2 separate regions of the Homo sapiens genome follow, and region 2 is linked to region 1. The links come from fine-mapping of genetic effects on gene expression. Tissue or cell type: breast. Region 1 holds a variant in brackets; the other region holds the start of a gene. All regions are shown on one strand. Distances are between the middles of the regions.

Region 1 (8,191 bases):
GGAGGATGACTTGACCTCGGGAGTTCGAGACCAGCCTGAGTAACATAGTGACACCTACCTCTACAAATATTTAAAAATTAGCTGGGTGTGATAGTATGCATCTGTAGTCCCAGCCACTAGGGAGGCTGGATTGCTTGAGTCTGGAAGGTCAAGACTGCAGTGAGCCATGATTGAGCTACTGCACTCTAGTCTTGGTAAGAGTGAGACCTTGTCTCAATAAATAAATAAATAAATAAATAAAAGAATCATATATATATATATATAAATATACACACACATATATATAAAATATATATACGCACACATATACTTAAAAATTAATTTTGTCTTTTCAAAACTAGTAGTGGAGTCTGAGTGCTTAATCATTATTCAGTATATATATTCAGTATACATATTCTGTATATATACACATATACTGAATATATATATTCAGTATATATATTCAATATACAATATATATATTCAATATACTATACATACCTATTGTATATACATTATATATAATATATCCTATATATACATATATACAATATGCATATTCAATATACAATATACATATTCCATATACATATACACAATATACACATATACAGTATATATATTCAATATACATATTCAGTATATATGTATACATATACACACACATATACTGAATAATGGTTAAGCACTCAGACTCCACTACTTCATAACCGTGATTTTAGATATGTGCTTAACACCTTTCAGCTTTTATTTCCTCATGTATAGCATGGTGACAATAATAGTGCCCACCTTATAGGATTTTCTTGATAATTAGGTGAGATACTCAATGTAAAATCACTTGTCACAAAGCTCCGTGTCATAAAAAAAGTCTCAGTCATTCAAAGTATGTTTCTGACTACAATGGGATTAAATTAGAAAAATTAGAAGTCAATAATAAAAAGGCATGTGGGCAATACCCAAGTATTTGGAAATTAAATGAGAGATTTCTAAAACAAATGAGTCAAAGAAGAAATCAAAAGAGACATTCAAAGTATTTTGAATTAAATGTAAAAGAAAAGCCAACATATCAGAATTTGTGGTATGCCAGTTCTTAAAGGGAAATTCATAGTGCAAAATGCCTGTGTAAGAAAAGAGGAATAACAGCAAGTTAGTGATCTTATCTTCCACCTTCAGAAACCAGAAAAAGAACAAATAAAACTCCAAGTAAGAAGAGAAAAAACAATAAAGCAGAAATAAAAAATTTTGAGGCTGGCCATGGTGGCGCACACATGTAATCCCAGCACTCTGGGAGACTGCGCTAGAAGGACAGCTTAAAGCCAGGAGTTTGAAACCAACCAGGCAACAAACTGAGTTTCCATCTATAAAAAAAATAAAAAAGCTTATCTGAATGTGGTGGCATGCACCTACCTGTAGTCCCAGCTACCCAGGAGGCCAAGGCAGGAGGATCATTTGAGCCCAGGAGTTGGAGGCTACAGTAAGCTATAATTCACTGCACACCAGCCTGGGGGACAGAGCAAGTCCCCATCTCTAAAAATAAATTAATTAAATTAAATAGTAATATATATTTTAAAAAGGTTCTTTTGGGGAAGGAGGCAAAAAATTCTTTATATATAAAGCATAGATTACATATACATAAATAGACATACAATATGTCTCTGAAATTAAAATTTATTGGGGGCAATTAAGAAAAAAGTCAAAAAAGACTCATAGGGTAGTGACTGAAATAACGTTTGAGGAAAACTGTTCTACGGATATTAAAAGAACAATAATGGAATATTATGAGCAACTTAACTAGAATACATACAAAAATCTGGATGAAACAGACAAATTTCTCAAAAGACCCAAACCACCAAAGTTCACTAAAACAAAAAAATAAATAAGAAGAATAGTCCCACATATTTAAATATATATTTTTGGTAAAATCCTTCCTACCATGAAAACTTCAGTCCCAGATGCCTTCACTGGTAAATTCTACTAAATATTCAGGGAAAAATAATTATACAAATTCTATAAAAATTCCTTCAGCAAGTTGACAATATGGGAATACCTACCAGTTTTTTCTTTAAGGTCAACATTACACATTACTGAAACCAGCAAAGACATTATAAGAAAAGAAGATTACGTAATAATATCCCTCATGGACATAACAATGTTCTGATGAAAACACCAGCAAAACAACTCCAGATATATATAAAAAGATAATACCTTGTCACAAAAGTGAGGAATATACCAAGAATGTAAAGCTGGTTCAACATTCAAAAATCAGTCACTCTAATTCACCATATTAACGCACTAAAAATTAGAAATACGTAATATTATCTTTTTGAAAGACACAGAAAAGCATTTGCCAAAAATCAAACATTCATTTCTAATTAAAAACGAAAACGAACAAAACCACCTCAGCTAATTAGAAACAGAAGGGTATTTCCTCAACCTGAAAAAAAATCAATCGTTTAAAAAGCTAACACTGTACTTATTAGTGGAACACTGATAGTGTTCCCCCGAAGATAGTAAAAAGACAAGGATATTTACCCTCATCACTGCTGTTAAACATTGTACTGGATGTTCTAGCCAGTGCAAACAGAGAAAGAAGATAAAGAACTAAAAGGCATCCAAAGTAGAAAAGAAAAGGTAAAACTGTTTGATCCAGAGATGACATGATCATATATGTAGAAAATCCATTGGATATACAAAAAAGCTTCTAGAATAGATGAATTTAGCAAGACTTGCCGGATGCAAGATCACTATGCACAAATCAATTGTATTTGTTTGTATTAACAATGCACAACATAGGACTGAAATAGAAAAATACCACTTAAATTGACATAAGTATTTAAATACTGTGGGATATGCCAGGCATGGTGGCTCACACCTGTAATCCCAGCACTTTGTGACCTGAAATGGGCAGATTACCTGAGGTCAGGAGATCGAGACCAGCCTGACCAACATAGCGAAACCCTGTCTCTACTAAAAATACAAAAATTAGGCAGGAGTGGTAGCACATGCCTGTAATCCCAGCTACTTGGGAGACTGAGGCAGAAGAATCACTTGAACCAGGGAGGCGGAGATTGCAGTGAGCTGAGATCGCACCACTTCACTCCAGCTTGGGTGACAGAGTAAGACTCCATCTCAAAAAAAAAAACAATACTGTGGAATAAATCTGATATAATATGTAAAGTACTGGGACACTGAAAACTGCAAAACATTGCTGAGAAAAAAATTAAAAGCTTAAATAAATTGAAATTTTTTTTTGTTCATTGGTCAGAAGATCCAACATGCTTAAGATAACAGTTCTCCACAGGCTGAACTCTATAGTCAGTGAAATCCTTATTTTTTAAAAATAATTATTTTATAAAATATGACAAGATGATTCTAAATTTATATGAAAATAAAAAGTATACAAATAACTACAGCAAAAATATATTTGAAAAGATGAAAATTTTATAAATCTATAGTGTCTTAGTTCAGATTGCTATAAAGAAGTACAGTGGGCTGGATGACTTAAAAATAGCAAAAATTTATTTCTCACAGTTCTGGAGATTGGAGGTCTGAGATCAGGGTATCAGGATGGTCAGGTTCTGGTGAGGGCCCTCTTCTATTTTGCAGACTGCTAACGTCTCATTATATCCTCACATGGCAGAAAGAGTGTGGACTAACTCTCTGGTCTTTTCTTATAAATGCACTAATCTCATTCATAAAAGGTACTACAATTCATGAACTAATCACCTCCCAAAGGCCCTGCCTCCAAATATCACCATGGTGGAGATCAGCGTTTAACATATGAATTTTGGAAAGACAGTCAGTCGATAGCATATAGTAATCAGAACAGTGTGCTATTCATGTAAAGATAGACATATAGATCAATGGAATATGATAGAGCCCAGAAGTAGACCTTTACTGTATATGAACAATTGATTTTTGGAAAAAATGCAGTTAGTCTTTGCTGAGAAGCTCTGTGTGCATATTGGGGCATATCTTCAACACTCAGTCAGGTTTTT[C/G]TCAAATCTGCCTTTGCCTTTACTTCCTGTTTGCATAAAGCCACAAGATTATTCAGTGATGAGAATTTAGGACCTTCTTATGTCTTTCCTAAGAAGGAGAGAACACTGTCTGCCTGTGTGTGGCCTTCAAGATTCCTGGGAATACTGCTGAGTTTTTCAAAGCCTTAGGAACATCTAATTTCCAGCTTTTACTTTTAAGCTTTTTGTTTATACTATTGTTTGATAGAAATATTATCCACTGCCTTAGGACCATAAAGTTAAACAATAATTCCCTGTTGTGTTTCTTTGTTTGTTTTTACCAACTCCTCCCCTCCCCTACCTCCAGGAAAAGGCTGTTCATGCTGGGTGAGCTCTAAGTCATGTCAGTATAGATAGCTTTGCAAGTGGGGTCTTCCATGAAATTACCAGGTAAGTCAGACAACGGTAATTATTTGGGAATGAGCTCTAACCGTCTCTGTTGTCTCTAGTGCCTGCACTATTGTTGCTTTTTACTGCAAATGTGGGCTATTATTTTTCAAGGCTACCCCACAGCTGGAGAACAAGTGATGAGAATAAAGCTAAAAAGCAAAAAAAAAAAAGCCATAAGTTCTTCCTAAGATTCAGTCACTTTTCTTGAATGAATACTCCCTGAGTTACTACAAGACTTTGGTTAATTTCTAGAGTTCTCAAATAGGTGGATTCTAACTTTAAAAATATTTTTACTCATTGGTTTTGTGGAAGAAAATATTTATCTTTTAACTTTCATTTCAGGTTCATTGGTATATGTGCAGACTTTTTCTATAGGTAAATTGCTTGCTGTGGGAGTTTGGTGTACAGACTTTCATCACCCAGGTAATAAGCATTGTATTCGATAGGTAGTTTTTCTATCTCTCCCCCTTCCTTCTCCCATGCTTCACCCTCAAGTAGGCCCTGGTGTCTGCAGGTCCCTTCTTTGCGTCCATGTGTACTCAATGTTTAGCTCCCACTTATAGGTAGGAACGTGCAGTATTTGGTTTTCTATTCCTGCTTTAGTTTGCATCAGATAATGGCCTCCAGCTCCATCCATGTTGCTGCAAAGGACATGATCTCATTCTTTGTTATGGCTGCATAGTATTTATATATATATACACACACACACATATGCACACACACACACACATATATATATATATCACATTTTCGTCATCCATACCACCACTGATGGGCATTTAGATTGTTTCTATGTCTTTGCTTATTATGAATAGTGCTGCCATGAATATACGCATGCATATGTCTTTATGGTAGAATGATTTATATTCCTCTGGGTATATACCCAATAATGGGATTCCTGGATTGAATGGTAGTCCCATTTTAAGTTTTTTGAGAAATCTCCAAACTACTTTCCACAATGGCTGAACTAATTTACATTCCCATCAGCAGTGTATAAGTGCTCCTTTTTCTCTATAACCTTGCCAGCATCTATTATTTTTTGACTGTTTAATAATACCCATTCTGACTGGTCTGAGATGGTATCTTGTTGTGGTTTTAATTTTCATTTCTCTAACGATTAGTGATGTCAAGCGCTTTTTCATGTGCTTGTTGGTCATGTGTATGTCTTCTTTGGAAAACTATCTGTTCATGTCCTTTACTTACTTTTTTTTTTTTTTTTTTTTTTTTTTTTTTTTTGAGACGAGTCTTGCTCTGTCGCCCAGGCTGGAGTGAAGTGGCGTGATCTTGACTCACTGCAAGCTCTGCCTCCTGGGTTCACGCCATTCTCCTGCCTCAGCCTCCCAAGTAGCTGGGACTACAAGCGCCCGCCACCTACACCCGGCTAATTTTTTGTATTTTTTTTTTTTTTTTTTTTTTTTAGTAGAGACGGGGTTTCACCGTGTTAGCCAGGATGGTCTCGATTTCTTCACTTTGTGATCCACCCGCCTCGGCCTCCCAAAGTGCTGGGATTATAGGTGTGAGCCACCGCTCCCGGCCGTCTTTTACTTACTTTTTAATGAGACTGTTTGTTTTTTGCTTGAATATTTAAGTTTCTTAAAGATGCTAGATATTAGACCTTTGTCAGATGCATCAATTGCAAATATTTTCTCCCATTCTGTAGGCTGCCTGTTTACTCTGTTGATGGTTTCTTTTGCTGTGCAGAATCTCTTTAGTTAAATTAGATCCCGTCTGTCAACTTTTGTTTTTGTTGCAATGGCTTTTGGTGTCTTCATCATGAAGTCTTTGCCAGGGCCTATGTCCAGAATAGTATTTTCTAGGTTATCTTCCAGAGTTTTTACAGTTTTAGGTTTTACATTTAGGCATTTAATCAATCTTGAGTTGATTTTTGTATATGGTGTAATAAAGGGGTCGAGCTTCAATTTTGTGCGTATGCTACACAGTTATCCCAGCACATTATTGAATAGGTAACCCTTTCCCCATTGCTTGTTTTTGTCAACTTTGCTGAAGACCAGATGGTTGTAGGTGTGTGGCTTTATTTCCCAGCTCTCAATTCTGTTCCATTGGTCAATGTGTCTTATTTTGAACCCACATTTTCTCCCAATAATTAATTGCCTTATTTCCCCTCTGCACTTCAGCTTCCCTCTGTTTTATCTTCCTCTTCATCCTAAAATAGTGTTCCATCATTTCAGCCAGATTATACACAATAACATCAATTTTCATATTTCTTTATTTATCTGCCTCCCCATTCCAGAGCTTGCTACGGAAAACCTAAACCTAGATATTAGTATTACCATATAGATGTAATTGTCCATTCCAATGGGTTCTCAGTCAAGCCAGAAAAACTGTGTACTTTTCTTTGATTACATCCTCCTCTAATTACTTTGGTTTAGATGTTTTTCCAAATTTTTGCCACTGTTCTAAATATTTACATCCACTTCACTGTAAATATGAGCATTTCTTTATTGTTTTCAGAGAAAGGAGAAACCACCTTATGGGAATTTGTATAAGATTCCTGTACTGTATTACCCTTCAGGCAAGAATTTATCTTTATCTACTCATAATCCATATTGCTTCTTTCCATACACAAGCTATAACTTGTCTTCTTACCAACTCAAAGCCGTTTCTTTTACCTGTTCTCTAAACTCAAGGTCCTCTGTCACAAGAGTCACGTAGGATAAGTAAACACAAAGTAGTTGTGGTAAACTTATTAGAAACAAGTATTTTCATTTTGGGGAATGATTCTGGCTAGTCTCCAAATCTGCATGTGTTTAGTTGAGTACAATAATGTGGTAGGGAGAATCCATCTGCAGTTGTGCTAAAGGTCCATTGTTGTCAGAGGGTAGAGTCGGGTAGGTAATATGTAAAATAGCAAGCTCTCACTCTTTTTTACCCTCTCAGTAATCTTCCTTGCTTCTTCAAAACCTTCAATGACTATAAATGCCCTTTAAACCGGTTTCAAGCTTTTCAGTTTGGTGTTTGATTCTATGCAGCTTTAGTTGCTACTTACATTTTTCCACTGCTATTTCCTGAATATATCTCCCAAAGCTCATGTTTTGTGAACTTTATGCTCAATGAAACAGTTTGGTGGAGTGGGGCCTTTAAGATGTGATTAGGTCATTAGGGCTCTGTCCTCATGAATAGATTAATCTGTTATCCTGAAAGATGATTAGTTATCATGGGAGTGGGCTCCTGATGACAGGACATGTTCAGCCTTCTTGCTCTTCCTGCCTTGCACACTCACTAACCATGTGATGCCTTTCTATTATAGGGTAACATAGCAAGAAGGTCCTCACAAGATGTCAGCACCATGCTCTTGGACTTCCCTACTTCTAGAACTGTGACCAAATAAAACCCTATTCTTTATAAATTACCTAGCTTTTGTTATGCTGTTACAACAGCAGAAAATGGATTAAGACACCCACTCACATATATTTTCTTCTTTGTCTTTTTAATACTGTGAAACAGAATTTTTTAGTTAATTTAGTTATTCTTATATTAGACTTTTCCATTTATGAAAGAATGAGTTCTTACAATGGACCTCTTTGATACCATTGACTTGAATGTGTAATAGGAAGAACTCTAAGGCTTCTGAAATAATCCAACTGTTTATCTGCAAAACCACCTGCAGCCAGAAAGTGAGATAACAAAATCACTGAAGAAATCAAAACATGAGAGTTGAATCACAAAACCTCACTTTATCTTGATGATTTTCTATGGAAGGTATATACCTCAGCACATCGATAAAAGGACAATTTTGTGTACTAAAACAAAGGAGGTCATTATAAGGATATAAAAACCAATGGTGT
Region 2 (8,191 bases), 310 kb before region 1:
TTTGTTTCAGGAAAATAGTATTAGTTTTACCACTACTAACTTGTGGTCCCATCTTTGGCAGCTACTACCTCAAAACCATCTTTATAATAATCAGAAATTAGAATTCCAAATAAGTCATTTAAATTCATTTGTCAAACTGCTCCTTTTCCAGGCTTTCCAAAAGATGCTAATAAATGGTAATTATCTTCAGGTATTAGCAAAAAAATCTAATTTTAAAATTTGGGAACCTATTTATTACCATTCTCAGTATTAAATATCTTTCCCAGTTAAAAGGATGAAATCTGTAGATTCCCTCCTCCCCATTTTGCAATCCATCAACTTTACAGAAAACTATTGATTGTTTTCCAGTGAATATAAAAACATAACTAATATGTAGTGAATTATTATGAGCTCGCCACTGACTAAAGCACTTTAAATGTATTAATATTATCTCATTTAACTTCAAATTAATGACTCTTTTCCCCTACTTTTAGATAATGATACTCAGAGAAGTAGAGAAGCTGGCCTAACATCACAAACCTATGCTGTTGTGGAGCTGGCATTTGAAACCAGGTGTTTTCATTACATTCTCTGATTTTAAATACTTTCAAAAAAGCAGGAAATCTACATGGACTTCAAAGAAAATTGCCTAAGAATATCTTCTTTGAATGCATGCTTTTAACATTAATGTTTTTTCAGGATTATTATATCAACTGGATTTCTCACACTCAGTTTCAGTTTCTTCACCACTCAAATATGCATAGTTTCTCCTCCTTGGGTAGAAGCCACAGTGTTCCTCAGTTACAAGGAGTGCTTTATATGAGAAATGGCATAAACAACTGTTGATACTTGTTATGGAGAAAAGTCAAATAACTCAGAAGCATGTGAAATCTGAAGTTTAATATTTTGAAAGAGTTGCTATGTAGAAAACAGGTGGCAGAACTAGAACCCATGGAGGAAAATTAAGGGATGAAGATTTTGGTTCAACACCAGAAAAAAATATTTTTAAAAAGAAATGTAATTAGTGTTGTCTAAATCATAATTGAACAGTCTCAGGAAGCAATGAGCTCTCTGTGGATAAACTCATATTCTGGAATGTAATAAGGCAAAGATGTAATAGAAAATGATCCAGCAATAGATGGGGATAGAAAAAATATAAGCATATAGTTATATAGTTTGTGTCAGTTTCCTCATGATTGTCAAGGGTTGGTGGAGGGTTAGAGAAGAGGAGGTCGCAGGATGCTATGGATTGAATATCTGCATACCCTTACCCCCAAATCAAGTTAGTATGTTGAAGTTTAATCATTAAAATGATGGTATTTATAGGTGGAGCCTTTGGGAGGTAATTAGGACATGAGGGTGGAACCCTAGGAATGAGATTCATGCCCTTATAAAAAGAGATATGAGAGGGCTTGTGTCCTGTCCGCTTTCCTCCATGTGTGTTAGATTGAGCAGCTAAAACAGATACACCATACATTGGGTAGCTTATGTGACCACACAGTTCTGGAGGCTGGGAAGTCCAAGATGAAGGTGTCAGTAGATCTAGTGTCTGGTGAAGGCTGGCTTCCTGGTTTGCAGATGGCTGCTTTTCCCTTATATTCCCACATGGAGGAAAGCCAAAAGAAGCAAGCCCTCTCATATCTCTTTTTATAAGGGCACTAATCTCAGATGAGACAGAGCAACATAGAATGAAAAAATAAAAAGAACAAAATAGGGAGCATGAAATTTTAGTGACTTGACAAACAATAGACATTTTTCTTTCTCTGCTCATACATCGACAGAAACTGGGAATATTTTTGTCATATTCTGCCACACTTGAACAAATTTCAGTGGAGGCATCATAACTGAGCCTGTGTTAAGACCAAACCTTTACTTGACTTACAAAACTTTCTGTGAGTTTTTTTCTTAGTATGGTTGATTTCTTCAAGAAAAAGGATGTAAGTTTACCAATAAGGTATTTAAAGTACAAGTTACTTAATTCTTTATTAGCAAATAGTTGGCTGCTAATTTTTGCTTCTGAAAACACTTAATAATTAAAGGCTACAATATTTATATCTCAAGAAACGTCTCAGGTTTTTTCTCGTCACTAAGCTTAAATCTTACTCTTAAGCAAAAATATTTTAAATTTGAAAACATACATTGTATTTGACTATTAGCTTTTTTTTTAAAGAGAAGTCATTAAACTTAAAGCTAAAAATAAATTTTATATTTATGTGTAGCAGTTACCATATTGATGTGCTAAAAAGTTTATAGATTTAGCTACCGCAATAACAACTTTCTAATCAAAAGTTGAGACTGTTGTGAACAACTCTTTTGTGAATATAACCTAGCATTGTACAGTATAGATTGACTATCGCATATGCAAAATGCTTGGAACCAAAAGTGTTTCAGATTTCAGATTTTTTTTTTTTCAGATTTGGGAATATTTATTTGCATATGCATAATGAGACATCTTAAGGATGGGACACAAGTCTAAACACAAAATTCATTTATGTTTAATATACACTGTATACACAAAACTGAAGATAATTTTATATAATATTTTACGTAACTTTGTACCTGAAACAAAGTTCTGTCTGTGTTTTGACTGAGATTTGTCATATGAAATCAAGTGTGGAATTTTCCACTTGTGGCATCATGTCAGCAATCAAAAAGTTTAGATTTTGGAGCATTTCCAGTTTTGAACTTTTGGATTAGAGATGCTCAACCTGTATTTCCTACAAACTGTCATTAGGAAAAATCAGAAGACTAATTATTGTCTAAATTTTACCGTCTAGAATTTCTAATATCATTCAGCATTTTCAACTTTTTTCTTAATAGTTTCATATTGGACTGCTTGCTTCAAATTCACACATTAACCTAATAATTAAAAGCTAGTGGAAAGAATTATCAGATTAAAGCCTTAATTTCTACAAAGCATAAGTTAATAGAGAAAAACAAGTGCAAAGAGAGGCACCAGGTGGTTCATAGGACCTTCAGGTAAAACAAATGAGATTTTATTAGGCTTACAGATAGAATTTTTGCCTGTGTGTCAAGGGATAACAGGAGTGTTGATTTGAGTGGCTTATGAAACAGGCATGTTTAGCTCAGCAATATTACTCATCACTTGGCTTTTTAATCTGCCAAGAGATGGGTACGATTTGCACTTATGAACTGTGTGTAATTATGGTGATTCAGGTTTTGGCTTATAATGAATCCTCCATCACAGTCTGTTTTCTCGGTCTTTTATTTTCTGTTCCTCTAAGGGAAGAGAGACCAAAGAGAATTCTACTTTGACCCTGGCTTAAGAGTGGAACATAGATGTCTATAAAACTATGTGGTATGTACATTTATAAAAATTTTAATTTGCATTTTCTCTAGGTTTTATGTTTTTGGTGATAACAGAATAAAGTGTGCATGCCATCCAAGATAAATGGATGAAGGAAGTTCACTTCTTTTTAATTATCTTATACTGACAGATAAAGCAAAATAGAAAAAAAATTCTGTATTTAACCTTAACAAGCTGAGACACACTAGAGAAGTGGAAAATAGATTGTGTGCATCTGATCGTGCTGCACATTCCCTTTAGGTTGCAATCTCTGCTGTTATTACCGACAACAACTGAGACTACAGTTTTAACTCTGTATTTACTTCTAGTTATCCCACAATTGGTACATAGTATTGGATGGAGCCCTGTATTTCAAGGAGTTCAACTACCTAATTTTCATAGCTGAGATAACTAAGTTTCTGAGTCCGTTTTCCTTTTTCCAGTCTGATCTCTCCTTTTCTCAAGGCTACTTTCGTTTCTGATAACATACTAAAGGTTATAGGATTTATCGGTATTTTGCCTCCTGGGGTCATTTGTTATTAAAAAAGAAACTCTATTCAAATAACTGAATCTCTACTATTGGATTTTCCAAAGCTATGATAGACCAGCTAGTGAAACTATTTTGTACTGGAATTTGGCAGGGTGATGGGGTGGGGAGAAGGTGTGGAGAGGAATTCTTGTCCTCAGTCCTGATATTTCTTTCCAGGTGAATGTGGTCTTCCGTGTGCTACACTCCTTGCCTCTCTCTGCTCTTCTATTCACTATCTACCAGAGAAGATGGAGTGATTCACTCTGATTAATAAATTTGGAAAAAATCAATTAGACATGCTCCGAATAGTTCCACCCTTTTTGTCTTAGAAGACAGCTGCCCTCAGAGAGCAAGATTTTACCTTTGTAAATTGGTACACATGATCTAGCTTAGCATTGCTTTTAACAGGGGGAAGTCTGTATAATTCCTGGATTATTATCATGCCAGTGGGTTCTCATATTATACTTTATCCTCCAAATTAATTTTTTGTGGTGAAATTGATGCTTTTACTTCTTTTCTTTTCTTTTCTTTTTTTTTTTTTTTTTTTGAGACGGAGTCTCACTCTGTAGCCCAGGCTGGAGTGCAGTGGTGCCATCTTGGCTCACTGCAAGCTCCGCCTCCCGGGTTAGCGCCATTCTCCTGCCTCAGCCTCCCGAGTAGCTGGGACTACAGGCACCCGCCACCACGCCCGGCTAATTTTTGTATTTTTAGTAGAGACGGGGCTTCACTGTGTTAGCCAGGATGATCTTGATCTCCTGACCTTGTGATCCACCCGCCTCGGCCTCCCAAAGTGCTGGGATTACAGGCGTGAGCCACCGCGCCCAGCCGATGCTTTTATTTCTATCTTCTCATTTGTGTAAAGTGAATAATGATATCTCACTGTGATTTCTAGTTCATTTTTGTGACTCACAAATATAGATACTACTTCCGTTATATTACCTGTTTATTTTCTTATGTGAATTGCTTTCTCATACCCTTTTCTAAATTTTCTCTTCAGTACTTTACAAAGGGATTTGAAAGTGAGTTTGGTGATAATACGAAAGTATTTCAAGTGGACAAAGTGCAAATAATAGTATCAGTTGATGTTAGCATACACACACAGGAATGTCTTCTTTTATAGTAAAATTTATTTATTTATTTATTTATTTATTTATTTATTTATTTATTTATGACAGAGTCTTGCTCTGTCGCCCATGCTGGAGTGCAGTGGCCCTATCTCGGCTCACTACAAGCTCAGCCTCCCAGGTTCACGCCATTCTCCTGCCTCAGCTTCCCGAGTAGCTGGGACTACAGGCGCCCGCCACCACACCTGGCTAATTTTTTGTATTGTTGTTAGTAGAGACGGGGTCTCACCGTGTTAGCCAGGATGGTCTGGATCTCCTGACCTCGTGATCCGCCCGCCTCGGCCTCCCAAAGTGCTGGGTATAGTAAAATATTGAGTGTGTGTGTATATGATAGAGAGAAAATAATACTAATTTTAAGAGAGTTATATGAAAATTCTTTTAGATTTCTAAGGAAAAGACTGACTCGAACAAATGGACATTTTAAGAAAGCTATTGCTACTTAGTAATGTATGAGTCAAATGGATAGAAACTCCACTATTTGATGTGAGGTGTCTAGAATGTTGGGAAAGTGTTAATTCAATAGTGCTGTAGACAAAAAGTTTTCCACATTGATCCTATTTGTTCACCCATCTCCCTCCACCTAGGGGAACTACTTTTTAAAAGATGTTATGTTGTTCAAATTTCATATATAACCAATGTAAGTGAGCCATTAGTGTTTTTGGAGTATGAGGTAATAGATTCCTGTCCCCCACCAACTCCCTTATTTATCCCCTTTATGATTTCCTCACATAGCTAATAATGCAACAAGAAGAGCTTTAGGGGTGCAGAGAACTCAGAAATATCCCATTGCAATAGAAGGATATGTTTCCTTTTAAGGTAGCTCCGAAACAGCCCATTATATAATCATTTTGTCCCAAAGCAGTGGCTTTCATACTCACCCTGCCCATGGGCCTGACCATAACTGTTATTTCACTAAATCAGGTTATTTTTGGAGTGCCCAATTCTAAGTTGGCTGCTACTGGTGACATACATTTCATTATAGTTTGAGAGTTGTCAATATAAATACTCCACTCATAGACACCAAGAAGGTTCTTAGGAGGCAAGATCTAATCTTTAGAAAAATTTTATTGACATTTCATAAAATATTTATTTAAAGCTTGAGAAGGAAACTTTCTGGCTGTTAATGTTTTTCAGCTACCAATGAGTCTAACTCACGCATCTTTTTTCTTTTGGTTGCAATTATTATACAACCTCCTGCACGCCCGCTCCATTGCACCTGCCTCTCAAAACCTAAAGAAAAAAGATTTAAGCAGCTAAAATTTTAATAAAATATGGAACAGTCACATGAATTTCTGAACTTTAAAATGGGGAAAACAATCATAGGCTCTGATGGCTAATTTCAGAATCCTTTACATTTCATAATGAAAATTTCTATGTATAAAGATTCAAACTATTTGGAGACTTACATTTCAAAGGATAATTCTACTTTTTAGGCACTGTAACTTATTTTTATCCAAGAGAAAGAAGAAATGGTTAACTGAAAAGATTTAGTGACAGTGTTGTGATAGGAGTCAAAACGTCTCTAGTTGGCATAAGCATAGGAAAATAACTTTGTTGCAAAACACTTGAGCTCTGTTTGCAGAAATGAATGGCTAGCGGATATTTTTGTTCTCTCTGTTATACTAATGGATAAAGGCATGCTGATAAGTCACTGTAGCTCTGTGGGGTTAATGCCAGAATGAAATACCAGAGCTGTACTCTTTCTTAGGAAATAGCAGATTCTTACAGACATGATCACAACACATTTTACAGACAAACTACATTGCCTCATGTACTGTAGCCCCTATTCTGTGCTTTGGGGGTCACCACAATAATTTCTCTTAGAAATTTCCTAATTTCAATAAAGCCTACCATGGAAACTTATTTGGTTGTTTGTTCCCTCTCTTATATCTGCTCCTCTGCGTCTTTCCCTTCTTTTCTGGCATTTGTTTTTCTTCTGTTCCTTTGGAGAAAGCACAGCCTTTAGAGCTAGTCAGTTTAGAATTTAGCTCAAATTTTATCTTGGTCACATATAACTATGGAAAAAGTATTTCCTTTCTAAAACCTCTCTGTTTTTTCATACGGCAAATGGAGACTATATACTCTACACTTAGGATTAGAATTAACTGAGAGACACACACATTTTCTCATTTTCTTTTCTTTTTTTTTTTTCTTTTCTTTTTTTTTTTTTGCTTCTCAATCAGCTCAGTTCTCTGTAGTAGATGAGGTAGTTATCAACGGGGAGGAGCTAGGAGTTTCCAGCTTAGCAATTTAATACTTTTAATAACTATACAATTATTTCGTACAAATACAAGAACCTAAACAGCTTATAGAGCAAGAATTACAGTAAGATTGGCCCACCATGCTTTTCGCAATCTCCCATAGTTGTGCTTTCATAAACAAAAGTGCTAACCTGAACTTCCAAATCAACAACTAAGCTCTGGCTCTATTACTACATCCCAGAACCATGACACAGATACATGATTATAGACCCTGAACAACAATGCCCATCTTCACAGGCACTTTGAAATGGGGCAGGTTTCATTTTAGAGTATATTTTAAGGCATAAGAGTTTGCCTCCAGAATTTTAAGTTGTAGTGAAAATACTCTGTCTGTAACATAGAAAAATAAGCTTAGAAGACTCTCCGAGTTTCCTTCATGGATTAAAAAGTTGAGGATTCTTTTAACTACATAAATTCTGTGTCCTTTCAAATAGTAGTACCCTTACAACTTAAATAGCACAGGTGTACGTTACCATTTCATACCGATCAGCCCCAGTGGGGCGTGGAGGTAGGGGAAACAGTTAAATAGAGACTTTCCCAGATGTGTTCCAAAATCTGTCATTTCTGTTAAATTGGTAATTATCAAATTTATGACTAAATAAAGATCATATAGAGCTTTTCTAAACACAGATTTCAGAGTCTCAAATTTAGAGAGTCTACTTCAGTAGCTCTGGAGCATAGGCTAAGACTCTGGATTTTTACAATGCATTTTAAGGAATCTTGATGTAAGTAGTCCTTGAACTTTACTGAAAAACTTTGCCCTACACCCTGCCTTATAAATAAGTTATACAACTGCTTCTTGGGGCTGTTAAGCAATGGAGTCTAGTGAGATTGTTGCAATTTCTTGTGCTGAGAGAAAGAAATCCAATTAAGAAATGTAAATTCTTCTTCATGCTGAGAGAATATGAGGCAATAAAAATATGAATTTCTTTATGTTGCATAGAAGCTTCTGGGAGCCCATAAAGGGTGAGCAATCCTTACCAAGCAGCTG

Evidence for each region. PIP is the estimated chance that this variant, and not a neighbour inherited with it, causes the effect.
Region 2: it holds the start of LINC01239, and the variant in region 1 is fine-mapped to the expression of LINC01239 in breast (GTEx, PIP 0.95).

The regions. Positions count from the first base shown.
Region 1 is chr9:22,952,646-22,960,836 of GRCh38, forward strand. It overlaps LOC124902132 (a long non-coding RNA gene), which reads left to right and starts at 4,308. Exons shown (of 3, transcript XR_007061438.1): 1 at 4,308-4,385; 2 at 4,728-4,808. The variant C/G (reference allele first, on the strand shown) is at 3,978.
Region 2 is chr9:22,642,999-22,651,189 of GRCh38, forward strand. LINC01239 (long intergenic non-protein coding RNA 1239) reads left to right here and starts at 3,202. Exons shown (of 6, transcript NR_038977.1): 1 at 3,202-3,298.